Homo sapiens: one gene and its partner. The protein of the gene in region 1 binds, or shares a complex with, the protein of each later gene. Each region holds a gene or a part of one and is shown in the gene's direction. Other genes may lie near its edges. The genes, in order: POLE4 and POLE2.

Region 1 (16,199 bases):
ACATAAATCTAAAACACTTTGAATCATGCACATAGTAAATGTTTAAAGGTGTTCACTATTATTATGATTGACTTAGATTAAACCTATTTTAAATATTAACTGTTCCTCTACGCTATCAGACCTCCAAGTGTGGTGTGGGGATTCATGGGGGTGGGAATTTTCTGGAGACCCTTTTCAGGAGTCCATGAGGCCAAAATTATTTTCTTAATACTACTATGAGGTTGCCTTTTTCATTCACATTCTCTCAAGATGTAGTAGTTTTTTAAGAGCTACCTGAGAAGTGCTAACGTTAGCAACAGAAGCAGCTAGAGAATCCAGTTCTCACATGAAATCAGACATTAGAGACTTTTCTTACTAGATTTAAAAAAAATTACTTGTCATAAAAATGTTGTTTGTTAGCTGGTAACGCATTAGTAATTTTAAATCAATATTTTAAAACTTTAATTCTAATATAGTAAGTATTGATATAACTGACAGAAACAAAAGCTCCCTGGGCTCTTTAACAATCTTTAAGACCGTAAAGGGATCTTGAGGTCAAATTTGAGAACCAAAGCTGTGATGCAACCTCTTTTTGAACAAACGTGGATGCCTCACCACCACAATTTCATCTTTTCTAGCCTCCATGACTTTTTCTTGTTTCCTCTGGCTGGGCTGAATTTCTTCATTTCTGCCTGCCAAAAGCCCTACCCCTCCTTCAAGAGCATCTATAACTGGTTATCCTTGAATTTGGTCCAGATTTCGCTGCCTCCTTGGCACCCTCTTCCACGATGCTGGGCCCTCCAGGGCCGGGCCTCCCTCGGACACGTGCCCTCGTTAGCCTTGGAATATGCACACTCTGTTTTGACGGAGACTCTCTTGCGAGCCTGGTCTAGATTTCTCCCCTCACCAGCCAGGCACAGGCACCAATGGGAGGTGCCTGGGCTCCACAGGCCCGTCGGGGCCAGAGGGTCGCCGGTAGCGTCAACCAAGTGCACGACAGCCCACGGGTGGCTAGGCGCGTGGGAAGAGCCGGAGCCCGACCCCCGCCCACCCGGTTTCCTGGCAGCGCACTGCCGCGTAGGGGCGGAGCCGCGCGCCTACACAGGGTGTGGCCTCCAGCCCGCGCGGGAAAGGGCCTGCGCCGCATGCGCGCGCACAGTCGGCGGCCGCGCGCAGCACGCTCAAGGCCGGGATGGCGGCGGCGGCGGCGGCAGGAAGCGGGACGCCCCGAGAGGAGGAGGGACCTGCTGGGGAGGCAGCGGCCTCGCAGCCCCAGGCCCCAACGAGTGTGCCTGGGGCTCGTCTCTCGAGGTTGCCTCTGGCGCGAGTGAAGGCCTTGGTGAAGGCAGATCCCGACGTGACGCTAGCGGGACAGGAAGCCATCTTCATTCTGGCACGAGCCGCGGTGCGCCTGCAGCGCGAGGGCATGCGGGAGTGGGGGAGGTGGAGTGTGGGGCGGGGCCTCGGGGCCTCCCGCGGGCGGGGCTTAGGGCGGCGTGGCCCGGGTTTTGAGATGTGGGCGTGGACCCGGAAGGCGGAGGAAAGGGGCCGGGGACCTGTGCGAGTTTTGTTAACACTCCTCCCTCTTGTTGAGGACCTGGATAGTGAGTGACTTTAATTTGTATCTCCAGGGCCTCGTACAGAACTTGTAGGAGTCTTTAGTGAATGAGGGAGAATACTGGGAAGAGGGTAGCGGAATGGATCTTCATGAAGTCCAGGACAATCTTAGCTTCCAGAACATTTTCTTGCCCCGAGCCTTTCTTCTCCCTTTCTGCCCCCACCCACAAACCGGAGCCCTCACCTCCTCAGTGTGTTAGAACCCATTACTAAAACTTTGCTTTTTTACTTCACAGGAACTGTTTGTGGAGACCATTGCAAAAGATGCCTACTGTTGCGCTCAGCAGGGAAAAAGGAAAACCCTTCAGAGGAGAGACTTGGGTAGAGTGGCACTGCAGTGTCTGGGGACAGACAAGGGAGGGCTGGGCTGGTTTCCCCTTGTGCAGGTTGAGAAGACGTCACTCTGATCTGAGAGGTGCCACAGCGTCTCTCCCCAGGATGGTTTCTGTTGGCCACAGTGCCAGGAAGCCCTACCTGTAGAGGCTGTCTGCTTGGGGTGGCGGGGCAGTGTGTGAAGGTGTCTGGGGTTGCCGTAGCGGACTGGATCCCTTCATACCTTCTGCCAAATTGCACCAGAAAAAGATATTTCTTTTTCACCTAGCAACTGGGGATTTGATTTCTGACTCTTGTCTGGCTGGGAACCCTCACCTGGGTAAGATTTCGTATACCGTATTCTCATGCGCCCTGCGTCTATTGCCACGTTCTTCTCTGACAACTTTAAGAGCAAAGCGAATAAATAATTTAGGGGTAATTTAGGAGGCCCCCAACCCCCGCGTTGAATGGTATTTGCCTATGCTTTTCTTAACTCTTCTAGGGAGACAGCTAATATATATAAGAGTTGCTGGTAGAGTAGATATGGATCTCAAGGCAGCAAGGGACGCATCTTATAAATGCCCTCATTTGCCCAAAGCCTCATGCCCTTCACTGCAGATTGTGCTGTTTTCTGACTGAGGTCAGCATGGCTGAAGTTAGTCAGGTGTCTCTTTTCCTTGTGTTTCAGATAATGCAATAGAAGCTGTGGATGAATTTGCTTTTCTGGAAGGTGAGTTCCCTCTCAGTGGGCAATCATTTCCGCCTGTCTTTTGCATGTTGATGTGAAATTCAAAATCTCATAAAACGGATGCCTGCTTCTTGTTTGTGTAGGGATAATTCTCCGCACTTGCTATTAGGATAGAAAAAAGTAACTTGCTAAACCTAGTGAGGTTCAGTTTTCTCCCTTGGGGAATTAAAATTTCTACCTGAAAATTGCTAACCATAAAGAAATAGGAGGGAATATAAAGATCCCAGTGGAGTTAGATGAATTCGAAAGTTCGATTCCTACTTTGATCGCCATCCCTAAATGTCAGGCTTGCCCCCCCTCATCATGTTACAGATCAGAAACAATTGTTAACATTTAAAGGGTCACCGCTTGTTCTTTTTTCTTCAACAATCTGTGTGAAGTGATTATTTTGCTGCAATAAGACTTGTACTTGTCTGTATTTTTAGGAGTCATGGATTAACTTGTGTACTAACTAAATTTTGTCATTAAAAAAGAAAATATTTGAAATACCTAATTTTAGCTACCTAGCCTCAGAGCGATTTCTGCTACTTAATTCTTCAGTCTGATCAGCTTACTCTTCACTACACGTATGTAGTCATGTGCTGCGTAATAACTTTTTGGTCAGCCATGGACTGCTCACATGAGGGTGGTCCCATCAGATTATAATGGAGCTGAAAAATTCCTTTTGCCCAGTGAGGTAGTGGTCATAACATCCTAATGAAATACATTACCTTTTCTATGTTTAGATTTGTTTAAATACACTTATCCTCATGTTACAGTTGCCTACAGTATTCAGTACAGTAACATGCTGTTCAGGTTTGTAACCTGACAACAATAGGTATACCCTGTAGACTAAGTGTGTAGTAGGCTATACCATCTAGCTTTGTGTAAGTACCCTCTATGGTGTTCACACAGTGGTGAAATCGCCTGAAGATGTGATGCATTTCTCAGGATGTATCCTTGTTGTTGAGCGACACATGTATTTTGATTGAATAGCTTAGCAAAAGCCATGTATCCTTATTCTCCCAGGGTGTTCTCATTACCTCCTTCAAGCCTTATTACCTTTAGAAATATCTTGATTTATTCCACTCTTTTTTACTCCTTTGTTCTGCATCTCCCTGTCAACCTAGGCCCCTGGTCCTTTTGATAGATATTTTTTAAATGTCTTATTAGATAGATAGACTACCATGGCCAACTCTATGTCTAGACTATTGAGCATTCTTTTAATTTGCAGATTTTTCTTCAGCCTCTCTTTCCACCTACTCATTTTTCTTAAAATTAACTTTTGTTAGTCCTACCTAAGGCAGGCACTCCTTGTGACAGACTTTCTGTAAGTTCTGCAGTCAAAAATGTTTGGAGCCTACTTTACCTCTTCATTTTTAATTACCAGCTTTTCAAAGACATGAGTGATATGATCAGATTTGTATTTTAAGTGCACAACATTGCTGCCCTGGGGAAAATAAACTGGAGGGTACTAGGAATAGAAGTGGGGTGGTCTTATGTAGTTTTCCACTCTAGCCTCTATCACAGCATAGTGCTTAGCTTGGATTTTTAATAAATGGCCATTTATTGAATGATTGGTGTGTTTATTTTCATCCTCTGCCTTCATCCTCATTTATCTCTGTAATTGAATCCCTTTGCTCTGTCCTACATTGGTAGATCTGAATGTTAGCCATCATAGCCCCTGTGGATTCAGTCTGCATTATATTATTTTTTACTGGGTAAAATAAATGTTCTTATGTCCTTAGGTGTGTATGGTCTAAGTAAATACATTTTTTTCGTTTTTATAATACATATCCATACTTGAAAATCAAATCGTTACCTAATGGCTTATAATGAAGTACAGCTGCCGTCCACCCACTGTTTTGTTTGTGTTTTGAGCTTTTCTGGTGGTTACGTTTATTTCTAACTAATATGCTTACCCATTGGTTTGTCAGCTGTAGACGGTATGTATTGACTTCCTGCTGTGATAAATGAAGATTTGGCTAACCTGTAGAACCCCATAAATCCCCTGCTGTCTTTCTGATTTTTGGTAGTTGTATCACTAGTTTTAGTTTCTTTACCTTTACAGTTTATATAACATACTAGGATGTCTTTGGTTGTTGTGTCCAATTTTTAATGTATTCCTTGACTCCCCAGTTTGTAAAGTATGACTATTAGTGCATGTATCCCTTTTCCCTTTCTAGTTCACATCTAGCTATCAATTTGTGTTATCTAGTAATTTGACATTGTCAAAGCTAATAACATTTGTATCTTATCACAATTAAATCTTCCATGCTTTATCTCTGGTTGATTGTAGAAGTTGAAAACTAGGACTGTAAACAGTCTTTCTCTACCTTCTCTCTGTCCCTTAATTCCTCATTCAGGTCCCCTCCCTGCAAACAACTGTTACTAGTTTTCTTCTGTAATCTGGATATTTTATGCAAATATGTTTGTATGTGTATATGTATATTCTTTTTCTAAGTCATATGAAATACAACGTATGTAAAGTGTGTGCTGTAAATGTAAAGTCAATAAATGATAAAATGAACACTCTCGTAACCACCATCTTGGCCAAGAGATAGGGTATTGTCAGCCCCCAGAGTCCCACGTATATTCATTCTTCATCATACCTATTCTCATCCCCTTTCCCGACATTACTGTTTCCTAACTTTTTTGGTAATTACTTCCTTTTCTTTATAGCTTACTATATAAGCATGCATCCCTGAACACTAAGGTTTAGTTTTGTTTTGTTGAACTCTCTGCAAATGGAACCAAACCGTATGCATTCGTTGGCCAACATCTGTCACACAACTGTTTTAAGTTAACACATTTATGAGATTCATCTGTGTGATTGCACATAACTCATTTGTTCGTGTTCCTTGCTATATGACAGTACCACAATTGAACTATTTTAATGTTGATATTTGGGAAACCTTATTTCTCCTATTATAAACAATTTGCTGTGAACAATCTTGTACATATTTCTCTAGGGTGGATGTATATGTGTGTATAAAATATATAATACTGCTGGGACCTAGGCTATATAGAGTATTCGTATCTCCATCTTTGGCAGGTACTGCTGAACTTCCTGTATTCCAATTCACGTTCCTACCAGCAGTGCATGATAATTCCCATTGCTTCTCATTCTTACCCACACTTGGTATTACCAGAGTTTTTTATTTTTGACAAGCTGTTATTGAATGTAAGTGATAGTTGCATGTGGTGTTAATTCGTATTGCCCTGATTGTGGGTGACATTGGGCGTCTTTTCATATACATGCCCATTTTTTTTTGAGGGGTGTCTTCTATTTTTCTGTTAGCTATTTTTGTCCTTTTTCTTATTGACTTATAAAAATGCTTGCTGTATTTTATTTCATTTTTATTTATTTATTTTTTTGACGTGGAGTCTTGCTTTGTCATCCAGGCTGGAATGCAGTGGCATGATCTCTGCTCAATGCAGCCCCCCCTCCCACGTTCAAGAGATTCTCACGTAACTGGGACTACAGGCGTGTACCACCACGCCTGGCTAATTTTGGCATTTTTTTGGTAGAGATGGGGTTTCACTGTGTTGGCCAGGCTGGTCTCGAACTCCTGACCTCAAGTGATCTGCCTGCCTCCGCCTTCCAAGGTGCTGGGATTACAGGTGTGAGCCACTGCGCCCAGCCGTGCTTGTTATATTTTAGATATGAATCTTTTTTAGTATATGAGACGTATCTTTTCCTGCCTTTTCACTCCTTAAAAGGTTGTCTTTTGATACGCATTAAAATATAAAGGTAATCAAATGTATCAATTTTTTTCCTTATAACTAATGCTATTTGTGTTCATTTTAGAAAATATTCCCTACTGTATTGTCATGAAGACATTCTGTATATGCTAAAATCTTTATAGTTTTGTCTTTCATAACAGTGGAGTTGAATTTTTGTGTATTGGGTTGGGGGTCCAGTCTCATTTGTGTCTTCATATTTAGATATCCGCTTGTCCATATCGTCATCTCACTGCTTTGCAGTGCTACCTTTCTTATCAATCAAGGCTGTTTCTGGCCTTTCTGTTCTCTTCCATTGATCTATTTGTATCTCTTTTCCATTGATGGGTATTCTCACATCAGTACTATACTGTCTCAGTTATGGTAGCTTTATCTGAGAGAGCAGATCTTCCCACCTTGTTTTTTTCTAAGTATCTTTGCTATTTTTGAATCTTTGCATTTTCATGTACATTTTAGAATCTGTCAAATTCCACAAAAAGAGATATTAATTGGGATTGTATTGAATTTATAAATTACTGTGGGGAAGAAACGATATCTTTACAATAGTGAACCTTTCATTTTATAAATATGGTCTACTTTAACATTTATTAATATTTAGTTTTTAATAAATTATTTTACCTGAAGAAATCTTGATGTATTTTGTTAAATGTTGTTCTGTAAGTACTTAATATTTTTGATGATATTGTTAATGGTATCTTTCTAAAGAAAATTTTATTTTCTAAATATTGCTGTTTTTAGAAATATAATTGATTTTATGTTAATTTTGCAACTAGCATCTTTCTTAGCTGTTATTCTTAGTTTTTTTACTTAAAAATTTTGTTTTGATGTAGTTCTTAATAATTTGAATGACATATCTGTTGATTTTTGAATTTCTTTAATTACATAGTAGTATATCATCTGCCAATAATAATAATTTTGTGAAGTTCTTTCCAATCCTTATCTTTATATATTTTTTTCTTGCCCTACTGAACTGGCTAGAATCTCTAGTACAGTGTTGCATGGAAGTGGTAAGAGCAGGCATTTTTGACTTCCAAGGGAAAGCTTTCAGTATTTACCTAGTAATTATGCTTACTGTAGATTTTATGTAGATTTTTTAACAGATTATGAATGTTGCATCCCTGTTTATAAAAGAGATTAGTCTTTTTTTTTCATACTGTGTGTGAGCTTCATACAATTCATTGGCAATTATACACTTTTTATCTATTTTTTTTTTTTTTTTGGTGGGGGATGGAGTCTCACTCTGTTGCCCAGGGTGGAGTACAGTGGTACGATCTCAGCTCATTGCAACCTCTGCCTCCTGGGTTCAAGTGATTCTCCTGCCTCAGCCTCTCGAGTAGCTGGGATTACAGGCTCGCACCACCACACCCCAATAATTTTTGTATTTTAGTAGAGATGGGGTTTTGCCATGTTGGTCAGGCTGGTCTTGAACTCCTGACCTCAGGTGTTCAAGGTCCACCCGCCTCAGCCTCCCAAAGTGTTGGGATTACAGGCGTGAGCCACCGCGCCTGGCCCACTTTTTATCTTATCTATTCTCTGGAAAACTTATTGAAAGATTGGAATTATTTTGTTTTTGAATATTTGATGGAATTCAGTGATGCTGTTAGAGGGGTTGCAATGCCAAATTTGGTTATTGTATAATTTAGATTTTCTGTGTTCTTACTGAATTTCTTCTGTCTGCTTATTTTACCTGTTTCAAAGAGTTATGTGTTAAAACTCTACTGCTATGATTATGGACTATTTCTACTTATATTTCTGGGTCTATTCTTTCATTATATATTATGAAACCATGTGATTAGATATATACAAATTTAATGTTGTTATATATTGTTGGTGATTGAGCCTTTTATATTTGTAAATTGGCTATTGTTATTTCTAACTGCTTTGAGCCCTAAAGTCTATTTTGTTTAATATTATTAAAGCTTATCAGCTTTCTTTAGTTAGTATTTATTTGCACGGTACGGATTTTTGTAAATCTTTTAATTTTTATCTTTCCATATATTTGTGAACAGAATTTAACTGGATTATTTTCCTAAATTCAGACAGTCTGTGTCTATAACTGGAGCACGTCATTTATTTATGTTTAATGTAATTGGTCATATCTATGAGTTTGAATTCTATTGTCTTATTTTGTCCTGCTTTTTATTTGCTTGTTTTATGTTTTGTTTTTTTTTTCTCTCAATTTTTGGCCTTCTTTTGGATTATTATTTGATTTTTTTCCCTCTATCAGCTTGGAAGTTATATGCTCTATTTCTATTCTTTTAGTGATTATCAGTTACTATGTAAGTCCTTAATTTATCAAAGCCTATTTAGTACCTTTCCCCTCATTCTCAACAAATTGAGATCTCAGGATCCATTAACTCAATTTTCAAATTCCTCGTCTCCTAATTTATGTGCTGTTATTGTCATGTATTTTTGTTTTGTCTTTGTCAATCTACATAAGGCATTTTTATTCCTGAATTATGCAGTCAATGATATATGGATTTAGTCACATACTACCTTTGCTTTTCTTTCCTTTCTGGATTATTATTATTTTTGAGACAGTTTCATTTCGTCACCCAGGCTGGAGTGCAGTGGTGCGATCTCAGCTCACTGCAACCTCTGCCTCCTGGGTTCAAGTGATTCTCATGTCTCAGCCTCCCAAGTAGCTGGAATTACAGGCATGCACCACCAAGCCTGGCTAGTTTTTTTTGTATTTTTAGTAGAGATGGGGTTTCACCATGTTGACCAGGCTAGTCTCAAACTCCTGACCTCAAGTCATCTGCCTGCCTTGGCCTCCCAAGTGCTGGGATTACAGGCGTGAGCTGCTGTGCTTGGCCTCCTTTCTGTATTTCCGATCCTCCATTTGTGATCATTTTCTTCTTCCTGAAATAAATCATTTAGAACTTCATTTAGTATGGTCTGGTAACTGACTCTCTCATTTTTTTCTTATGAAAATGCCTTGAATTTCATTGTTGGAGGATAATTTGTTGAATATAAATTCTAGGTGGAAAATTATTTTCTTTTAGCACATTGAAGCTATCATTTTACTGCTTTTTTTTTTGGCTTCTATGTTTTCTATAGAGAAATTACCTGTTTGTAATTCTTTTGAAGCTAGTTTATCCTTTTTGTTTTTTGTCTGCTTTTAAGATTTTCACTTTGATTTTCTGTGGTTTCACTCTGATGTACAGAGGTGTGGATTTCTTTTTATGTAGTTTGTTTGAGCTTCTTGAATCTATAGATTAATGTCTTTCATCTGTCCTGGAAAATTCTCAGCGAGTGTCTCTTCAGCTATTGGCTCTGCCTTGTTCTTTCCTGTGTCTCTCTCTGGGATTCCCATTAAATATATGTAAAAACTCAATCATAATTTTGCCTCTCTAGTATGCATTCTGTGTAATTTTTTCTGATCTTCCAGTTTATTCTCTCCATTTGTCTCATTTCCTTTAAACTATTTTTTTTGTTTTTTTTTTTTAGTTTCAGTTTTTGTATTTTTCAGTACTGTGAGTTCTGTTTGGTTCCTTTCCAAATCTGTTGTCTTTTTTTTTAGCTTAATAAAGTATCAAGCAATTTTTGTGAGTACTTTTTGTTGTTCTTATTTTCTGCAGGTATTTTGAAGTTTGTCTTTTAGTTCTGTAAACATAGTAAACACAGTTGTTTTATAGTGAATGTTCCATCCAATATATGACCTAATATTCAAAGCCTTTTGAGTTTTTTGTTTGCTAGTCTGTGCCGAATCTAACATCCATAGTCTCTTGAGACTGTCTTTTTGTCTGTTGTTTCTTTTGGTACTGTCACATGGCCTTTTATCCCCCTATATGCCTATCTTTGGATAATGGTTATTTTCTTTAAAAAGTATTTGTTAGATAAGTTGAGGCCATATGGTGATACTTTCTCCAAAGAAAATTTCCATTTGCTCCTGAAGCCACCTACAGCCATTATCAGTGCAGGACTTCTGAATCCAGATCTAAGACTTGAAGGTTTCTGGACTATCATACTGATATGAACTCAGGCTGCAGGCCTGTGAAGGGGCACTGATTAAATTCCAGTTCGTCCTTACTCTGAGGGGGCAGCCTTTTGGGCTCTAGCTTAAGAAAGATGGGTGTCAGACTTCCTTACTTGGGTAGACTCAGGGATTTGACTCTTGGTTCCTTCAGCCTACACAAATAACCGCCCAGTTTCTCAGCTTTTTCAGATTGGCAGATGTCATGAGAGCAGAAGTAACATTAGAGGCTGGGTTTGTTTTGTGTTCTTACTGTCTCTAGATTTCACATTTGCTTTTTCTTGATGTCTCTTCAATTCCTGAAGATTTCCTTTTCTTATATATTTTATTTAGCTTTCTCAGTTGATCTCAACAGGAACTTGCCATTATGAAAAGCACCTCTATTTTTTTTTAAATTAGAAGTGTTTTTGCTTTATTTTTCTTATGTTTTTATTTTCCCTATATTATCTAGGTCATTAAAAAAAGTTTTGGTATCCTTTCAACTGTGTAGCTTTCTTCAGATACCTGGTGATTTTCATTCTATTTAAGAATAAGGGAATAAGGCTGTTTGGTAACTGTGTGTGTGTGTATGGGATGAGGGGGTGGTTGTTGCCTGGCAGCTTTGCTTTAGGGTGAACAGGGGTGGGACCAGATGTTGTCCTGGGTGACCCCGAGGGTATGAATGCAGAATGCTTTGCTGTGGGAAGCTGGCAGTTTTAGAGGCTGTTCTAGTTTTCTCCATATAGTTCATTTGGTTCTTTAGAAGAGAGCCCTGTGATCTTTGTTTTTTTTTTTTTTCCAAGTTAGGTTTAAATGCCTGTCTTCTGGTTGTCCTGCCTGTGGGGAGGGTTGTGGGGAGATAGGGGCAACTGTTTGTCATACAGACCCTCTGGTCATTAACCCATTTTCATCTCACATCACCATTCCTGGTGACTTGAGCCTGGAGCTTCCTCATGGTTCTTTTAGGCATATGGGCCTCCTTTTCTGCTGCAGCCCCCTCTGTTCATTCTAGGCTCCTTTTTCCTCTGCTCTATTTATAAGCATACTTTGATCAGGTTTCTGTTACTCAGTTTTTTGTTGAAATCCATTAACTGCCAGTGGGCCCCTATTTGTTGTAGATTTATACTTTTTAAACTTTTTTACCTTTTGAATGGAATCTTGGATGGGAGGGCATACGTACTTGTGGGCCCAGTCCCCCATCTGGAACTGAAACTTTCTAAAAAGATTATAAACTCTTTAATTAGAGAGTTTACCTCATTTATTTTATATTCTTTTCTTATATGGTCTTCATCAATGTTCATTAACTAACACAACGACTTCTTAGCCCTTTTCCCACTTCTAATTCTAGCTCTTCCGACTAGTATGCTTAATTCCTAACTGCCCACCATCTGTAATGACATGTTTTCCCTGGGGATATTTTGGATGGATCATCCTCAAAATTAGTATTTTGGTCTTAGAGAACTGCTGCCAATACCGGAGCCTCTTCTGCATTAAGTTTGCCCAGCTTGTTACACTAATCCAGCTTCTGAGGTCCCCTGATATACTCATTGCTCTTTGTATGTTTAGGTACTTTAGATTGATTGCCGAGCGGGGCAGTTTTGTGAGCCTTCATCTGAAGCCTTCAGTTCACCCCTCTGCACAGGCCTCAGCTTTGAAGAACGGAGTCTTTGCACTTACACACACTCTTCCTGTTCTGCCTTCACCTATGCCGGGATAAGCAGAGATCTCATCAATTAGCTCTTCTCTGCAAGGTCTTCCACTATTTCTGTCTGTCTTCCATATCAAGCCTGGATGCAGCTGCTGCTGCTTAGAGCAGAGATGAAGAAAGTGTTCTGCATAAGTGGCTTCCTGAATGATGAGGACCAGAATAAAGGTTTTTGATCAACCTCAGTCCAGTGTGTTTTATAATCTCGCCTTTGTTCCTACCCTGTGACTGGAGAGTCACCATACCTGGTCACAGACCTTCCTGATCTTCCCTGCCAGCCATTCTAACATACAGTCCTTTCATTAATTTTGTTCTTTTATTTTTCCAGCACATCACCAGAAAGTGGTTCCAGAATTTATGGAACACCACTTGCCCTCAGGAGTTCAAATAAATATGGTCCTAGATTGAAAGCCAGTTAAATTTTTTTTAAGTTTTATTTATTGACATATCCACATACTCTATATTTCACCAATTTAAAGTGTACAATTCAGTGGTATTTAGTATATTCACAAATATGTACACCAGTCATCACAGTCGATTTTAGAACATTTTATTTATTTATTTATTATTATTATACTTTAAGTTTTAGGGTACATGTGCACAATGTGCAGGTTAGTTACATATGTATACATGTGCCATGCTGGTGCGCTGCACCCACTAACTCGTCATCTAGCATTAGGTATATCTCCCAGTGCTGTCCCTCCCCCCTCCCCCCACCCGACAACAGTCCCCAGAGTGTGATGTTCCCCTTCCTGTGTCCATGTGTTGTCATTGTTCAGTTCCCACCTATGAGTGAGAATATGTGGTGTTTGGTTTTTTGTTCTTGCGATAGTTTACTGAGAATGATGATTTCCAATTTCATCCATGTCCCTACAAAGGACATGAACTCATCATTTTTTATGGCTGCATAGTATTCCATGGTGCATATGTGCCACATTTTCTTAATCCAGTCTATCGTTGTTGGACATTTGGGTTGGTTCCAAGTCTTTGCTATTGTGAATAATGCCGCAATAAACATACGTGTGCATGTGTCTTTATAGCAGCATGATTTATAGTCCTTTGGGTATATGCGCAGTAATGGGATGGCTGGGTCAAATGGTATTTCCAGTTCTAGATCCCTGAGGAATCGCCACACTGACTTCCACAATGGTTGAACTAGTTTACAGTCCCACCAACAGTGTAAAAGTGTTCCTATTTCTCCACATCCTCTCCAGCACCTGTTGTTTCCTGACTTTTGAATGATTGCCATTCTAACTGGTGTGAAATGGTATCTCATTGTGGTTTTGATTTGCATTTCTCTGATGGCCAGTGATGGTGAGCATTTTTTCATGTGTTTTTTGGCTGCATAAATGTCTTCTTTTGAGAAGTGTCTGTTCATGTCCTTCGCCCACTTTTTGATGGGGTTGTTTGTTTTTTTCTTGTAAATTTGTTTGAGTTCATTGTAGATTCTGGATATTAGCCCTTTGTCAGATGAGTAGGTTGCAAAAATTTTCTCCCATTTTGTAGGTTGCCTGTTCACTCTGATGGTACTTTCTTTTGCTGTGCAGAACTCTTTAGTTTAATTAGATCCTATTTGTCAATTTTGGCTTTTGTTGCCATTGCTTTTGGTGTTTTAGACATGAAGTCCTTGCCCATGCAGAATGGTAATGCCTAGGTTTTCTTCTAGGGTTTTTGTGGTTTTAGGTCTAATGTTTAAGTCTTTAATCCATCTTGAATTGATTTTTGTATAAGGTGTAAGGAAGGGATCCAGTTTCAGCTTTCTACATATGGCTAGCCAGTTTTCCCAGCACCATTTATTAAATAGGGAATCCTTTCCCCATTGCTTGTTTTTCTCAGGTTTGTCAAAGATCAGATAGTTGTAGATATGCGGCGTTATTTCTGAGGGCTCTGTTCTGTTCCATTGATCTATATCTCTGTTTTGGTACCAGTACCATGCTGTTTTGGTTACTGTAGCCTTATAGTATAGTTTGAAGTCAGGTAGCGTGATGCCTCCAGCTTTGTTCTTTTGGCTTAGGATTGACTTGGCGATGCGGGCTCTTTTTTGGTTCCATATGAACTTTAAAGTAGTTTTTTCCAATTCTGTAAAGAAAGTCATTGGTAGCTTGATGGGGATGGCATTGAATCTGTAAATTACCTTGGGCGGTATGGCCATTTTCACAATACTGATTCTTCCTACCCATGAGCATGGAATGTTCTTCCATTTGTTTGTATCCTCTTTTATTTCCTTGACCAGTGGTTTGTAGTTCTCCTTGAAGAGGTCTTTCACATCCCTTGTAAGTTGGATTCTTAGGTATTTTATTCTCTTTGAAGCAATTGTGAATGGGAGTTCACTCATGATTTGGCTCTCTGTTTGTCTGTTGTTGGTGTATAAGAATGCTTGTGATTTTTGTACATTGATTTTGTATCCTGAGACTTTGCTGAAGTTGCTTATCAGCTTAAGGAGATTTTGGGCTGAGACAATGGGGTTTTCTAGATATACAATCATGTCATCTGCAAACAGGGACAATTTGACTTCCTCTTTTCCTAGCTGAATACCCTTTATTTCCTTCTCCTGCCTCATTGCCCTGGCCAGAACTTCCAACACTATGTTGAATAGGAGTGGTGAGAGAGGGCATCCCTGTCTTGTGCCAGTTTTCAAAGGGAATGCTTCCAGTTTTTGCCCATTCAGTATGCTATTGGCTGTGGGTTTGTCATAGATAGCTCTTATGATTTTGAGATACGTCCCATCAATACCTAATTTATTGAGAGTTTTTAGCATGAAGGGTTGTTGAATTTTGTCAAAGGCCTTTTCTGCATCTATTGAGATAATCATGTGGTTTTTGTCTTTGGTTCTGGTTATATGCTGGATTACATTTATTGATTTGCGTATATTGAACCAGCCTTGCATCCCAGGGATGAAGCCCACTTGATCATGGTGGATAAGCTTTTTGATGTGCTGCTGGATTCGGTTTGCCAGTATTTTATTGAGGATTTTTGCATCAATGTTCATCAGGGATATTGGTCTAAAATTCTCTTTTTTGGTTGTGTCTCTGCCTGGCTTTGGTATCAGGATGATGCTGGCCTCATCAAGTGAGTTAGGGAGGATTCCCTCTTTTTCTATTGATTGGAATAGTTTCAGAAGGAATGGTACCAGTTCCTCCTTGTACCTCTGGTTGAATTCAGCTGTGAATCCATCTGGTCCTGGACTCTTTTTGGTTGGTAAGCTATTGATTATTGCCACAATTTCAGCTCCTGTTATTGGTCTATTCAGAGATTCAACTTCTTCCTGGTTTAGTCTTGGGAGAGTGTATGTGTTGAGGAATTTATCCATTTCTTCTAGATCTTCTAGTTTATTTGCGTAGAGGTGTTTGTAGTATTCTCTGATGGTAGTTTGTATTTCTGTGGGATCGGTGGTGATATCCCCTTTATCATTTTTTATTGCGTCTATTTGATTCTTCTCTCTCTTTTTCTTTATTAGTCTTGCTAGCGGTCTATCAATTTTGTTGATCCTTTCAAAAAACCAGCTCCTGGATTCGTTAATTTTTTGAAGGGTTTTTTGTGTCTCTATTTCCTTCAGTTCTGCTCTGATCTTAGTTATTTCTTGCCTTCTGCTAGCTTTTGAATGTGTTTGCTCTTGCTTTTCTAGTTCTTTTAATTGTGATGTTAGGGTGTCAGTTTTGGATCTTTCCTGCTTTCTCTTGTGGGCATTTAGTGCTATAAATTTCCCTCTACACACTGCTTTGAATATGTCCCAGAGATTCTGGTATGTTGTGTCTTTGTTCTCGTTGGTTTCAAAGAACATCTTTATTTCTGCCTTCATTTCGTTATGTACCCAGTAGTCATTCAGGAGCAGGTTGTTCAGTTTCCATGTAGTTGAGCGGTTTTGAGTGAGATTCTTAATCCTGAGTTCTCGTTTCATTGCACTGTGATCTGAGAGATAGTTTGTTATAATTTCTGTTCTTTTACATTTGCTGAGGAGAGCTTTACTTCCAAGTATGTGGTCAATTTTGGAATAGGTGTGGTGTGGTGCTGAAAAAAATGTATATTCTGTTGATTTGGGGTGGAGGGTTCTGTAGATGTCTATTAGGTCTGCTTGGTGCAGAGCTGAGATCAATTCCTGGGTATCCTTGTTGACTTTCTGTCTCGTTGATCTGTCTAATGTTGACCATTTTCATATGAAT
Region 2 (16,199 bases), on another chromosome or scaffold:
GGCTGTCTTAGAAGGTACCTGGGGAGACCCTCCTTATGGCAGACATCAAATGTCCCTCTTGCCATTTCTTATCTGTAGGAGTCATTCTCCATTGTACCTGTGAGGAGTCAGAATCTCAGTTAAGTGATTAGTCTGGGGTTATCAGACTAGTAAATGGAAGAGCCTGGACTAGAAATAATAGCTGATTTTTAAAATCCACTTTCTCCCTATTGTATTCTGTTGTCAAACTTGTAGTTTAATTTTTTTGTCAACGGTTTTCATTGTTACATAAATGTGGATTTATTTATTTTCATTTTTTTAGGGAAAATTTTTTCTGGAAGATCCTACTGGAACAGTCCAACTAGACCTTAGTAAAGCTATATCCTTCACTTGTCTGTATTTTTTAAAATCTGCATTACGTGAATTGGGGAAATTGATTATATATCCTTCTAAAATTTACCTATTTGGGTTCTCAATGTAACTTCTCTATGTTGCTGGTGTAGGAATGTAGAGATATAATCCTAAACAGGGACAGAACAACTTTAATTTTCTCTTATTTGGAGAATCTAGATGAATCACTGACGAAATTTATATCATGGTAAGAATGATCCACCCTGTCAATATTACCAAGAATTAAACATGAGGACATTTAAAACTAAAATTTTTTAAGCTCTTTCTAAGCTGTGGTCTATTCACAGTTTCAAATGGGAAGTCTTTAAATTTATTATTTAGAAGCCTTGTTGGACTCAAAATGTATGTTGACTTTATTACTGCCTCAAGAATAGAATTATTTTCCTCAACTGTTGTGTACCAGTTCCATAGTGGTTTATACACAGAGGCATGCTTTGTCTTAGCAGAAGGTAAGTCAGTATACTTTGTTACTGTCCTTCTTCTCATTCTCCAGTAAAACTTTCTGCTTTGGGTAAAATATGTTAACATGATATAATTTGGGATACCATTAATTAGAAGAGCATATTTTTGGCAAAATAACTCTTAGACTGTTAATGGGCTAATAGAAATCTTTTTGGGGTGATGAAAATGTTCTGAAATTAGATAGTAGTAATGGCTACACAACTTGTGAATATACTAAAAATCACCGAATTACACACCCTTTTTTTTTTTTTTCTTTTTTTTTTGGAGACAGAGTCTCACTCTGTCACCTAGGCTGGAGTGCAGTGGCGCGATCTCGGCTCACTGCAACCTCCGCCTCCCGGGTTCAAGTGATTCTCATGCCTCAGCCTTCCGAGTAGCTGAGATTATAGGCGCATGCCACCATGCCTAGCTAATTTTTTGTATTTTAGTAGAGACGGGGTTTCACCATGTTGCCCAGGCTGGTTTCAAACTCCTGAGCTCAGGCAGTCCACCCGCCTCGGCCTCCCAAAGTGTTGGGATTACAGGCGTGAGCCACCATGCCCGGCCTGAATTATATACTTTTTTTTTTTTTCTTTTGAGATGGAGTCTCACTCTGTCACCCAGGCTGGAGTGCAATGGCACGATCTCGGCTCACTGCAAGCTCTGCCTCCCGGGTTCACACCATTCTCCTGCCTCAGCCTCCCTAATAGCTGGGACTACAGGCGCCTGCCACTACGCCTGGCTAATTTTTTTTTATTTTTGTATTTTTAGTAGAGACGGGGTTTCACTGTGTTAGCCAGGATGGTCTCGATCTCCTGACCTTGTGATCCGCCCGCCTCAGCCTCCCAAAGTGCTGGGATTACAGGCATGAGCCACTGCACCCGGCCCTGAATTATATATTTTTAAAGGGTGAATTGTATAGTATGTGAACGATACCTCAATAAAGTTGAAAAAAACACTTAATTTTATATAGGGCCATAAAATGAAACATTTCCTAATCTGTATCAACACGTACTGCCAAACTGAAAAGTGAAAAGTTCTGAATCTATTTCTATTTAATGAATTTTATAAGTTGAGACTCTCTGTGGATCTAAAGTTGTTCACTGTGGTTCATTGAGGTTGGCAACCTCTGTAATTAGTTCACAGGGCATGAGACTAGCCTGGCATTATTGCTTTGTTGTAACATAATTTTGTCCTTTCAAACATAGAGGATTAGACAAATGAAAGTGACGTTACTTTTTTTCAGGTTGGTTTGAAGATCAAGTGTTTCATGTCAATGCCTTTGGATTTCCACCCACTGAGCCCTCTAGTACTACTAGGTATTAAAATGTTTGGTTTATACTCTATGGGAATTTGGTAATACTGGCAGGAGTGAATGTAAGATAGTACGTCATATCTCAGTTACTAAAAGGTGTCAGGCTTTGTGTCAAAATGGAAAAAGCAATGGAAAATGAGAATTAGAAGACTGGGTTTTGTATGTAATGTGAAAACTAGCAGATTGGCCAACAATTAGTTGCAATACCGTCTTTGTACTTCGGCTTTAACTGGGAAAGATTTCCAGTCTGTTTTATCTCTGGGGTTGATGAGAAGTTGAAGTGAGATAAGACAACTAGGATAACACTTAGAAGAATATAATTCCATGTTAATATAAAATTCTCATTTTTATATTCCAATGAATGAAAGTTATGTGAGGTAGCTTATAGCTCCTTAATATAAGTGAAAGCATCATAATATTAGAGCTATTCCAAAATGGCCTTCTCTTAGAGGAGCTGAGCTCCCTGTCACTTGAATTATTTGGGCAGAACCTGAATGATAGTATAAAAATTGTACTTGGTGTCCCATGGGTTGAAAGTAGTTTATAGACCTTTCTTTTCTTCTCCCCACTTTGAGGTGTTTAAAAACATTTCGAGTTAGTTTCCAGTGTATAAAAACTAGAAGATTTCTCATAAAGGCCTAGGTTTCAGAGTTCTCTTAACAGGAGGATCTGGCAATACAGAGCCTGAATTCTCACACAGCAAAAACTAAACTGCAGTGGTTGCCCACTTTGGGCAGGGCATGTATGTGTGCCCTAGTTAGTGTCAGTGGACTGCTGCTTTGCTATTTAGTGTTATCTTCCTGGAGCCTGTAAGCATTTGAGTTTGCCACCTCTGGGGGAATTAAAGTAGTTGCCTTCTAACCATGAGATTCTGTATAATGGTGATGATTTCAAAAGGAAGCATAAAGATTAAGATTTTAGTTTTACCAGGAGGCAGAGGTTGCAGTGAGCCGAGATCGCACCACTGTACTCCAGCCTGGCAACAGAGCGAGACTCCGTCTCAACAACAACAACAAGGATTTTAGTTTTAGTATGCCTGTATAAATTCAAGGTGCAAAGGCAACATTTCCTGGCTGGGAGTTTACTGGCAGGGCGGCCTGTGCAGAGCATCTACTCTTGCTGTTGAAGTAACTGAGGGAAAGGTGCTGATCTTGCTAAGGAGAACACAAGCCCTAATCAAGCCAAGCTCACCTCTATTTGAGTGCTTTTGGTGCAGTTTGTGGCTTTTTTCCAATATGGTAAGTTTCCTTTGGAATATATTTAGAGCAAAATTGCCATTGTCATGGTATTTTTGTTTTGTACAAGCTTCAAAATTACTACTTTGGAATGAGAGGTATAGTTGAGTTGGCTGGCTGTGAGTTTACCATTTGTTTCTCTTTAGCCAAGAGATCATTATTATAATGTTTCAAATAATTTTCCACTTAAATTATACCATTTTCTCTAAATCCAACTGCTTAGTATATGCTTAGTAAACCAAAGGATTGGTATGAGGTGTAATAAAGTACATTAAAATAAAATGATCATTTTATTCTTGTTAGGATTATAAATTTTCTCTAAAATGCCTTCAAAATATAAAATTCAGGGGGCTAAATCTGGTGGTAGTCAATCAATTCAACAACTAATATTTTAGTGAGTATGTTTTATGTGTAAAATACTGTTTTACAAATAAGTGCAAATAGGTCTACAGCATGGTCCTATCCTAAAGAGATTTACACTGACTCAATACCCTCCCTACCATTGTGTAGTTAATGCAAATAATTTTTTTTTAAACGGAAGATGTGAGTAAGGCTTTTCTGAAGTTTAATTTCTCAATATTTAGCTTAATAGGTGTTTCTGTGATGCTCTGATTTATGTTTGGGTATATGCTTAACTGAAATCATCATACAATTATGTCTACTTACTGCATTCCTCTAGCAACTATAAAATTATTACTGTACCTTTGAAAATGCCAGTTGGTCCACTTGGTGGGAACAATAACAATATCAGTTACCATATCTAAGGGCTCACACCGTACTAAGCACTGTGCCCTGTGGGCTTTCTGTACATTATCACTTGTATTCCTTCTAGTAACCCTGTGCAGTAGATATCAGTTTAGTTTTTTTTTGCATTTGAAGAGTTAGGTTAAGAAGTGTCGATTTGGGAGGCTGAGGTGGGTGGATCGCTTGAGCTTTGGAGTTCAGAACTAGCCTGGGCAACATGGTGAAACCCTGTCTCTATTAAAAATACAAAAATTAGCCAGGTGTGGTGGCATGCGGTTGTAGTCCCAGCTACTTGGGTGAGAGAATCGCTTGAACTTTGGAGGCGGAGGTTGCAGTGAGCTGAGATCCTGCCACTGCACTCCACCCTGGGTGACACACTGAGACTTTGTCCCCCTACCCCCCAAAAAAGAAGGGTTGGGTAATTTGTCCATGGTCACAAACTTTTTTTAAGACGGAGTTTTGCTCTTGTTGCCCAGGCTGGAGTGCAATGGCACCATCTTGGCTCACCACAACCTCTACTTCCCGGTTTCAAGTGATTCTCCTGCCTTAGCCTCCCAAGTAGCTGGGATTACAGGCATGTGCCACCACACTCAGCTAATTTTGTATTTTTAGTAGAGACAGGGTTTCGCTATGTTGGTCAGGCTGGTCTTGAACTCCCGACCTCAGGTGATCCACTGGCCTCGGCCTCCCAGAGGGAGGCTGGGATTATAGGTGTGAGCCACTGTGCCTGGCCCAAACTTTTTATTGTTAGAGATGTGCTTTGATCCCAAGGTTTCCGACTCAAGCCAGTATGCTGCATTGGAAAAGTAGTTGAGTCTTTAAAAAAAGAAAAGTTTTTTCTTATTAATAATGTAGTTCATGATTGCAAAAAAAAAAATTAGAAAATATATGAAGGCACACAAAAGGAAAGGAAAATCACCTGTAATTTTACTAAACAGAAAAAAACTGTTAACATTACTTTATATATGTATATACAGTTGTGTATTGCATAACAACGGGGATACATCCTGAGAAATGTGTTGTTAGGTGATTATGTCACTGTGCAAACATCACAGTGTACTTATACAAACCTAGATGATATAGCCCACTGTACACCAAGGCTGTATGGTACAGCCTGTTGCTTCTGTGCTACAAACCTGTGTGACACGTTGCTGTATTGAATACTATAGGCAACTGTAACACAATGATAAGTATTTGTCTCTCTAGATACAGAAAAGATAAAGTAAAAATATGGTATAAAATATAAAATTGGTACACCTGTATGGAACACTTATCATGAATGGAACTTGCAGGGCTGGAAGTTGCTCTGAGTGAGTCAGTGAGTGAGTAGTGAGTGAATTTGAAGGCCTAGGACATTACTGTACACTACTGTAGGCTATTAACACTGTATACTTAGGCTACACTAAATTTGTTTAAAAAGAGTTTTCTTTCTTCAGTAAGAAATTAACCTAGCCTGGGCACAGTGGCTCACACCTATAATCAATCCTAGCACTTTGGGAGGCTGAAGGGAGTGTTGCTTAAGGCCAGGAGTTTGAGACCAGTCTAGACAACATAACAAAACCTCATCTCTACCAACAACAACAACAACAAAATTAGCTGGGTGTGGCAGTGTGTACCTGTAGTCCTAGCTACTTGGCAAGCTGAAGTGGCAGCATTGCTTGAGCCCAGGAGTTAAAGGCTGCTGTGAATTATCATTGTGCCACTATACTTCAGCCAGAGTGACAAAGGAAGACCCTGTCTTGAAATAAAAATTTTTTAATAAAATTAATTAACTTTAGTTACTATAACATTCTTTATAACCTTTAAAAAATTTTAAATTTTTGACTCTTTTTGTAATAAACAGCTTAAAACACAAACACATTCTACAGCTGCACAAAAATTGTTTCTTTGTATCCTGATTTTGTGAGCTTTTTTCTTTTATTGATTAATTGATTTACTGATACAACTGTACTCTCTTCTTCAGGCTGGAATGCAGTGATATGATTATAGCTCACTGCAACCTCAAATTCCTGGACATAAGTGTTCCTCCTGCCTCAGCTTCCCAAGTAGCTAAGACTGCTAATTAAAAAAAAAAAATTGTGTAGGGATTGGTGGGGGTCTTCACTATGTTGCTCAGGCTGGTCTCGAACTCCTGGCCTCAAGCAATCCTCCCACCTCAGCCTCCCAAAGTACTGTGATTACAGGCATGAGCCACTGTGCCCAGCCACTTTTTTCCATCTTTATATTTTCTAAAAATCTTTTTTGTTAAAAACTAAAACAAGTGTATTAACCTAGGCCTATACACAGAATCATCAGTATCACTGTTTTTCATCTCCACATCTTGTCCACTGGAAAGTCTTCAGGGGCAATAATTCATGGAGCTGCCATCTGTAGTAACAATGCGTTCTTCTTGAAGGACCTCCTGAAGGACCTGCCTGAGGCTGTTTTACAGTTAAAAAAAAAAGTAGAAGGACTACACTCTAAAATAATGATTAAAAGTACAGTAAATACATAAACTAGTAACATAGTCATTTATTATTGTTATCAAGTGTTACATATTGTACATTATTATATGTGCTGTACTTTCCTACAACTGGCAGCTCAGTAGGTTGTATACACCAGTGTCTCTACAGACACAGTAATGTGTGGCACTAGGACATTGTGACAGCTAAGATGTCAGTAGGCAATAAGAGCTTTTCAGTTCCATTATCATTCTGTGAAACCACTCATATATGCAGTCCGTCATTGCCAAAACGTTTTTATGCCGTGCATGACAGTCCATATGTAGTAGATCCTCATTAATTTACAGATTTGTGCTAAAATGTTTTTGTACCTCCTAAAGTCAATACTAAAGGTGCTTTAGTGGTCATTTATGCTTAGCAGAACAGCAAAAAATTTTGAGTCACCTGGCATGCATGTTCCCAGCTGAAGTCGAACAGGCCATACTGCCTTCTTGTTTCAGCCTCATTAAGAGATGACCAGAGGGGCCGGGCGCGGTGGCTCAGGCCTGTAATCCCAGTACTTTGGGAAGCCTAGGCGGGCGGATCACGAGGTCAGGAGATCGAGACCATCCTGGCTAACACGATGAAACCCTGTCTTTACTAAAACTACAAAAAATTAGCCGGGCGTGGTGGCAGGTGCCTGTAGTCCCAGCTACTTGGGAGGCTGGGGCAGGAGAATGGCATGAACCCGGGAGGCAGAGCTTGCAGTGAGCCGAGATCATGCCATTGCACTCCAGCCTGGGGGACAGAGCGAGACTCTGTCTCAAAAGAAAAAAAAAAAAAGATGACCAGAGGACAGAGACTGCAGGGAGCAGTACAGGGTAGTGCAAGAAGCTCTGGCCCTGGGGCCAGTTTTGTGTGGGGAGGGGGCATTTGAATCTCACCTCTGGCACCTGTTTTTGGAGCAACCTCAGATAAGTCACTTAACATTTCTGAACCAACTTTTCTCATTTGTAAAAATAGAATCTACCAGGATAAATTGGTTTTAGGACTTAAGACTATAATCAATCCATGTATATATAAGTACAAATTTTCCCAAGGAGCAATGGTTCAGTGTTTGCCAATTCATTGTTTGTGGAGATTTTATAGAACATAATATCACTAATAACAAGAATCAACTGGCTGGGCGTGGTGGCTCATGCCTGTAATCCCAGCACTTCGGAAGGGCGAGGAGGGTGAATCATTTGAGGTCAGGAGTTCAAGACCAGCCTAGCCAACATGGTGAAACCCCATCTCTACTAAAAATACAAAATTGGCTGGATGCGGTGGCATGTGCCTGTAATCCCAGCTACTCAGGAGGCTGAGGCAGGAGAATTGCTTGAACCCGGGAGATGAAGGTTGCAGTGAGCTGAGATCGCACCGCTGCAGCACTGCACTCCAGCCTGGGAGACAGCATGAGACTCCGTCAAAAAAAAGAAAAAAAAAAAAAAGGAATCAACTATAACAAGATATGTATGTGTATATCTGGAGAGTTTCTTTTTATGCATGAATGCACAGGTCTATATCTATTCCCTTTTTTTGGCATTATAAATGGATACATACTGTACCTTGCTTTGTAACCTGTGTTTTTCATCTAATAATATGCTATCAACATTTTCTATTACTGTGAAATATTGTTTTATAGCATGATTCGTGACATTCAGGAAATATGTTTTGAGCACATACTGTATTGCCACTAGGTGGGGAGACAGACATGAAACAATCGCCCAATTACAATTGGCTGACTACAATTTTTTTTTTTTTTTTTGAGGCAAAATCTTGCTTTGTTGCCCAAGCTGGAGTGCAGTGGCATGATCTCGGCTTACTACAACCTCCATCTCCTAGGTTCAAGCGATTCTCCTGCCTCAGCCTCCCGAGTAGCTGGAATTATAGGTGCCTGCTGCCATGCCCGGCTAATTTTCACATTTTTAATAGAGATGGGGTGGATTTCACCATGTTGGTCAGGCTGGTTTTGAACTCCTGACCTCAAGCAATCCCCCCACCTCGGCCTCCCAAAGTGCTGGGATTATAGGTGTGAGCCACCCTGGCCTGATTACAAATTTGATAAGATCTGCAAAGGAGAAGTACAGGTTCCTATGAGAGTGTATAATGGGAAAATCTAACCTCTTTTGGGATCCTCAGAGGAGGCCTATGGGGTATTTGCATTTAAGCTGGGAACTGCAGGATGTCAGTGTAGAGTGGGCAAGAGTGGTGGAGGCTGGGAGTGTGTAGATTACCCACTTTCCTACTGACCCTTGCTTGGTGAGCATTGAATAAAACCAAGCTTTGAAGGAACCGTTGAATAATTTTTTCACAGTTCTTGGATATAGGCTAGTCTTTGTATATATCTTTAATTCCTTAGGATTAGCCATTCCAGAAGTAGAATTACTTGGGCAGATGGTTAGCACATATTTTGAGGTTTCTATGAGATATTGTTCAAATGGTGTACTCATTTCTTCTACTTTCAGTGACATAGGAAATTATTATTTTAATGTTTGCTTTAGTCAGTTTTTTTTTTTTTTTTTTGAGACAAGAGTCTCACTGTCGCCCAGGTTGGAGTGCAGTGGCGCAATCTCGGCTCACTGCAGGCTCCGCCCCCCGGGGTTCACGCCATTCTCCTGTCTCATCCTCCAGAGTAGCTGGGACTACAGGCGCCCGCCACGTCGCCCGGCTAATTTTTTGTATTGTTAGTAGAGATGGGGTTTCACTGTGTTAGCCAGGATGGTCTCGATCTCCTGACCTCGTGATCCGCCCGCCTCGGCCTCCCAAAGTACTGGGATTACAGGCGTGAGCCACCGTGCCCGGCCGTTTAGTCAGTTTTAAGACACAGATATAGCCTATTATTTTATTTACTGCTTCCATATTGCTTATCTTGTTTTAGAATATTTAGATAACCTTTGTACTTTTAAAGTGTTACAAAGAGTACCTTTTTACACTGGAAAATAACTTCATTAGATACAAAGAAGCTAAATGTATACAACTATTAGAAAAATATCTCTAGTGGTATATAGAAGATAATTATGTTATAATTATCTAGGGCATACTATGGAAATATTAATTTTTTTGGAGGTCCTTCTAATACATCTGTGAAGACTTCTGCAAAACTAAAACAGCTAGAAGAGGAGAATAAAGATGCTATGTTTGTGTTTTTATCTGATGTTTGGTTGGACCAGGTGGAAGTATTGGAAAAACTTCGCATAATGTTTGCTGGTAGGTCTTATTTTTTTTCTTCTTTCTTGAACTCTTTTAAGGGTTCATGTTTTAAAACTTTTTGAGTATTCTATTTATCTTTTTGAGTATTCTATTTAAAAAAAAACAGAGTTAGCAATGAGATAATTTAAATTAGATTTCATTTTAAAGACTTAAATTTTTACATTAAGAAAAAAACCTGTGTGTGTGTGTGTGTGTGTGTGTGTGTGTGTTTATAGTCATGATAAGTAAGAATTAGTCCTGAAGTTCAAGACCAGCTGGACAACATAGTGAGACCCCATCTCTAAACAAAAACAAAAACAAACTGGGTTTAAGTGCAAGCCTATTACCCTGGGCAGGTTACTTAACCTAAGTCTCAGATTTTATGGATGTTCTGAGGAGTAATTAAGCCAATGCAGGCCTGGCCTATAGTAAGTGCTCAATGAATGGCTACTGTTATTAGTATTATTTTAATAAGTTATTAAAATGTTATTTTAATTAAAATAAATTTTTATTATTAGAAAGTCATGGTTAAAGGGTTTTTAACTTGATTTGTAGACTAGAAAAGTATTGTTCATTTACTCTTTTATTGTTTAGGTTATTCACCAGCACCTCCAACCTGCTTTATTCTGTGTGGTAATTTTTCATCTGCACCATATGGAAAAAATCAAGTTCAAGCTTTGAAAGGTATTAACGATCTATTTAATAAGAAGTGTTTCTATAGTCATATAAACTAAAGTAATAAGAAATTATCCATAATATTTTAATTAAGAATATACAGGATTGTATCTAATCAAATATAATTTTATGGCATTATATGCAAATTTAATTCAATACCTTTTTAAAATTTTAGATTCCCTAAAAACTTTGGCAGATATAATATGTGAATACCCAGATATTCACCAAAGGTAATGATCTCTAGCACTATATATTTTTTCACCGTTTTACTTAAAAAAAAAACAAAAAATGAATTTTGTTATATCAGCAATTATTACAAAACTAAGGAAGAAAGATAAAGTTGAGAAAATTAAAAGAACTAAGAGATAAAGTTATCCTCACATTGTACTAGAGGTTTATAATGAAAAGTATTGAAAGGGATAGAGGTAATTTCAGCCATACTTGGAATTTCTTCGTGGCATTACTCTTAAGAGTCTAGAGCTTCACTCTCCGATATGATAGTCACTGGCCACATGTCTCTTTAAATCTAAGTTTAATTAAATTTAAATATAAAATTCAGTCCATCAGCTATGCTAGCCACAATTCAAGTGTTCAATTGGGCAGTGCAGATATAGAACTTTTCTATCATGACATTACTAGACAGTGTTGGTCTGGAGACTTAATAGTTCATTTATTATAATGCATGAAATTTAAATGTTTTTTAATTTTAAAGAGAAAACAAAGGGAATAACTTGCTTTTAAGCTATTGGATAGTGTTACAATAATATTTTTAAATGAATTGTGTTGAATTTTGCTACAGTAGTCGTTTTGTGTTTGTACCTGGTCCAGAGGATCCTGGATTTGGTTCCATCTTACCAAGGTAAGTTTTGTTCAGATTTTTGCAACAGTGTAGAAAATTTTGTAAAACTTAAAAAGATAAACTATATCACATAAATTGTTTTTATAGGCCACCACTTGCTGAAAGCATCACTAATGAATTCAGACAAAGGGTACCATTTTCAGTTTTTACTACTAATCCTTGCAGGTAAGAATTAGTATTTTGTGTTATACATTTTTCCTTTCATTTAAAAATTAGCCAGGTGTGGTGGCTCATGTCTGTAATCTCAGCACTTTGGGAGGCCGAGGCAGGCAGGTTGCTTGGAGTTCCGAGACCAGCTTTGGCAACACAGTGAAACCCATCTCTACAAAAAGTACAAAAATTAGCTGGGCTTGGTGGCACGCGCCTGTGGTTCTATGAAGAGGCTGAGATGGGAGGATCACTTGAGCCTGGTAGGTGGAGAGGTTGCTGTGAGCTGAGAATGCACTACTGCATTCCAGCCTGCAGCCTGGGCGACAGAGCAAGACCCTGTCTCAAAAAAACAAAAAACAAAAAAACAAAAAAAACAAAAAACAAAAAAACTAACTTGATTCCTAAAATGTGTCTCTGAATTTCGACTGTTATGGAATAAATATAAGAAGAAAATTTATTTTTGTTTTAGGTTTCTCAAAACTTTGAAAATAGTTTAACTATATTTAAATAATTTATTGGTAGTCAATTCAGACTCTTGAATAATGGATAGCAGTTTAAAAATAGATATTATTACTACATATCCTTTAAGAAAGGTTACAAAGGAAGAATACAAAGATTACTTATTTACTGTTCGTATTGCTCATTGTAATCATAAGTTCTTCCTGTGGGAATACCATCAGAGGCAGCCTTGGTTCGCCTCTTTTCTGCCTACATTCACTCCTTTGCTGGCCTTCTCCAGTGTCCTCTGGCTTTAAGTATCATCTGTGTATTGACACCTTCCACATTTATATTTCCACTTCAACCTACCTTCCAAACTCCAGACTCAGGTATCCAGTTGCCTACTTATCACCATCCCAACCTAAGTGAACTCCTGATCTTCCTCCCCACGAGTGTCCCTAACCTCTTCTGTAGACTTCTCCATGTTAGTTCATGACACCTTCATGGTCTGAACAATGATTATTCCAGTTGTTCAGGCCAAACACTTTGGGGTTTCTCTCACATGTTTTTTCAGGAAGTCCCATTAACTTCAAATTATATCCAGAATCTGCTCTCTCTCTATACCTCTACCTCCACAACCCTCTACCACAGTGGTCCCCAACCTTTTTGGCACCAGGGACTGATCTTATGGGAGACAGACGCCAGGGGGGGTGGGGGTGATTTTGGGATGATTCAAGCGTATTACACTTATTGTGCACTTTATTTCTATTATTATTACATTATAATATATAATAAAACAATTATACAACTTACCATAATATAGAATCAGTAGGAGCCCTAAGCTTGTTTTCCTGAAACCAGACGGTCCCATCTGGGGATGATGGGAGACAGTGACAGATCATCAGACATTAGATTCTTATAACGAGTGTGCAGCCTAGATCACTCACGTGTACAGTTCACAACAGGATTCGTGCTCCTGTGAGAATCTAATGCCCCTGCTGATCTGACAGGAGGCAGAGGTCAGGATGTAATACAACCGATGGGGAGTGGCTGTAAATACAGATGAAGCTTTGCTTGCTTGCAGCCTGCTGCTCACCTCCTGCTGTGTGGTCCAGTTCCTAACAGACCATGGACTGGTACCAGTCCATGGCCTGGAGGTTGAGGAGCCCTGCTCTGCCATCTTCTCGGCCTGGATTATTACAATAGCCTCCTAATTGGTCTCCAGCTTTTACTCCTTCCCCTCCGTATTCTATTCTTTTTTTTTTTTTTTTTTTTTTTTTTTTTTTTTTTTTTTTTTTTTTTTGAGACGGAGTCTCGCTCTGTTGCCCAGGCTGGAGTGCAGTGGCGCGATCTCGGCTCACTGCAAGCTCCGCCTCCCGGGTTCATGCCATTCTCCTCTCCGTATTCTATTCTTAACGCAGTGTGAAAGTGATCCTGTAAAGCATAAGGCATATCCCATCCACCTTCCCGATCCTGGAAAAAGGGACCCTCATTGGAAAAAGGGACCCCTCGTGATTTAGTGACAGCCGTATCCTTGCAGTGGTAATCAAGGCCCTGTGTTATCTGGCTCCGTTACCTCTCTGATTTCCTCTCCTCCCCATTTACTCCAGCCACACTAGCCTCCCTTCTGTTCCTCAAGGATGCCAGGCGAGCTCCAGTCTGAGGGCCTGGGCTCCATCTGTTCCCTTTGCCTGCAGTGCGCTTCCTCTGGGTATCTGCTTGACTAAGTCCCTCTTCCGCTTCAAGCCTGTGCTCAAGTCACACTAAATTATGAGCCCGGCCTGTTCTGATCATCCTATTAATATGCCCGCCTTCTAGGCTCTCTCTTACCACATATGCTGTCCCTCTTAGCCTGTCTTTTTCTTTTTCTCTTATGCTTAATTATCTTAAAACATACTATATGATTATGTTCGCTTTTTATTTTCTCAGCCCCACCCCCTACTAGAATGTAAACTGTATGAGGGCTGGGATCTTTTGGTTCTGTTCGCTAATCCCTAGAATGGGGTAGGCATATATTAAGAGCTCAATACATAGCTGTTAAATGAATAGATGAATAGACAGACTCTGGTTGAAGTTTTGTGTGGTGAACAGTGAATGTGGGAATGGGGTTGTATTGTAAGAGATTTTACCTTTAAAATTAATATCATTTTTTTCTGAGAAGTCAAATTCAACTACTGTTTTCATTTCAGAATTCAGTACTGTACACAGGAAATTACTGTCTTCCGTGAAGACTTAGTAAATAAAATGTGCAGAAACTGCGTCCGTTTTCCTAGCAGCAATTTGGCTATTCCTAATCACGTAAGTGAAACAACTTTTTTATTAAACTGCCTTACATGTTGCATTATATAAAATTTTATTAAGCCACTTAATAATTTGTCCTTGGGTTAGGACATTTATTTATGGTTCAAAATAGTTTGAACGTACTTTTGTCAGTAAGTTAATTTTTGTTAGTGAAGTCAGTGTTTCTCAGCTTTCTACCTAAGTGTATGTCCTTTAGAGGACAGAGAAAAGCTGAGAATAAGCATGAAATTTCTTTCAAGCTTCGTGTTTTGCCTTTTAAACTCTTAAATTATACTTGAAAATATATGTATATTTGTTTTAATAAACTGTTCTTATTTATCCCATTGGTTACATATTTTATATAGTATGTCCATATCACAAGAATGTGCAGTATTTATCTTGTAGCTTCGAGGTTCCCTGACAATAGTTGTCAATCACAGGTTACATACACCCCCATTTGAGAAGTACGGAAATAGATGTTACAGAGCATTTTTATTATTCATTTTATAATATTTAAAGTTTATGGACCAGGTGCAGTGGCTTATGCCTGTAATCCCAGCACTTTGGGTGGCTTGCTTGAGGCCAGGAGTTTGAGACCAGCCTGGGCAGCATAATGATGTATATGTTATTAAATGAAAACTCATAGATTTTTTTTCCTAAAATACAGAATAGTTTATTTCACTTTTAAATTAGTGTCTCCCAAAGCTCTGTGAGTCAAAGCTTTCCTAGTTTCTCAAATTTTCTGGTTCCTTTTGGTAATTAATATTTAATTTGAAATTATTTGTTTAGCTATTTTCACTTTTGCAAATGAACTGAAGTTTGCTTTGTTTTGTGCTCTTTTGTAGTTTGTAAAGACTATCTTATCCCAAGGACATCTGACTCCCCTACCTCTTTATGTCTGCCCAGTGTATTGGGCATATGACTATGCTTTGAGAGTGTATCCTGTGCCCGATCTACTTGTCATTGCAGACAAATATGATCCTTTCACTACGACAAATACCGAATGCCTCTGCATAAACCCTGTAAGAATGTAGTTAATCTTATATAGTCATTATTTATCAAGATTAGAGTGCATTTTTTAATTTAAAAATATATATTTAATAAGATTATTGTCGAAGTAAAAATATGCTATTAGTGAAACACTGAATTAAGTTTCTATACACAGAAAGTTGGTATACACAGAAAGTTCTTAAACTTTCAGTATAGTGACTATAAAGTAACATGACTTAAAAAACAAAAAAACAAGCATACCCACAAGCATACCAAAACATAAATCCAAAAGAGTAATTTTCTCCTCTTCAGAACTTATCTTGGGATTCCTTTCTGGGAATTGCTTCAGAGCCTGCATATTGGTGGTACTTGTCCTTTGAGAATGATTTTGATTTTTGGAAATTGCACAGGTCCCAAAAATCTAAGCCTGATTAATATAGAAACCTCATTGGTACATATTTTATTACTTAATTTTATGTAGAACCTTGAAATTGCTTCAGAATCTTGAGGTTGCTTCAGAATTTCTGCAGAAATATAATTGACTTTTAGGCCAGGTATGGTGGCTCACACCTGTAATCCCAGCACTTTGGGAGGCCGAGGTGGGTGGATCACGAGGTCAGGAGTTCAAGACCAGCCTGACCAACATGGTGAAACCCCGTCTCTACTAAAAATTACAATAATTAGCTGGGCGTGGTGGTGCGCGCCTGTAATCCCACCTACTTGGGAGGCTGAGGCAGGAGAATTGCTTGAACCAGGGAGGCAGAGGTTGCAGTGAGCGGAGATCACGCCATTGCACTCCAGCCTGGGCGACAGAGCGAGACTCCATCTCAAAAAAAAAGAAAAGAAATATAGGCCGGGTGTGGTGGCTCACGCCTGTAATCCCAGCACTTTGGGAGGCCAAGGCGGGCAGATCACGAGGTCAGGAGATCGAGACCATCCTGGCTAACATGGTGCAACCCCGTCTCTACTAAAAACACAAAAAATTAGCTGGGCGAGGTGGCGGGCGCCTCTAGTCCCAGCTACTCGGGAGG

What was found.
Region 2: POLE4 (region 1) and POLE2 share a complex: the UniProt entries of both Homo sapiens proteins name them as parts of the DNA polymerase epsilon complex.

What each region holds. Positions count from the first base shown.
Region 1 is NC_000002.12:74,957,509-74,973,707, forward strand, and holds POLE4 (DNA polymerase epsilon subunit 4), read left to right. Parts: upstream 1-1,134; 5' UTR 1,135-1,171; coding exon 1,172-1,384; intron 1,385-1,832; coding exon 1,833-1,917; intron 1,918-2,596; coding exon 2,597-2,638; intron 2,639-11,900; coding exon 11,901-11,914; 3' UTR 11,915-12,620; downstream 12,621-16,199. UniProt on the Homo sapiens protein: Accessory component of the DNA polymerase epsilon complex. Participates in DNA repair and in chromosomal DNA replication.
Region 2 is NC_000014.9:49,649,266-49,665,464, reverse strand, and holds part of POLE2 (DNA polymerase epsilon subunit 2), read left to right. Parts: intron 1-301; coding exon 302-358; intron 359-790; coding exon 791-839; intron 840-2,077; coding exon 2,078-2,150; intron 2,151-9,621; coding exon 9,622-9,794; intron 9,795-10,370; coding exon 10,371-10,460; intron 10,461-10,626; coding exon 10,627-10,681; intron 10,682-11,250; coding exon 11,251-11,310; intron 11,311-11,397; coding exon 11,398-11,475; intron 11,476-14,087; coding exon 14,088-14,196; intron 14,197-15,023; coding exon 15,024-15,200; coding exon of another isoform or gene 15,201-15,212; exon of another isoform or gene 15,213-15,318; intron 15,319-16,199. UniProt on the Homo sapiens protein: Accessory component of the DNA polymerase epsilon complex. Participates in DNA repair and in chromosomal DNA replication.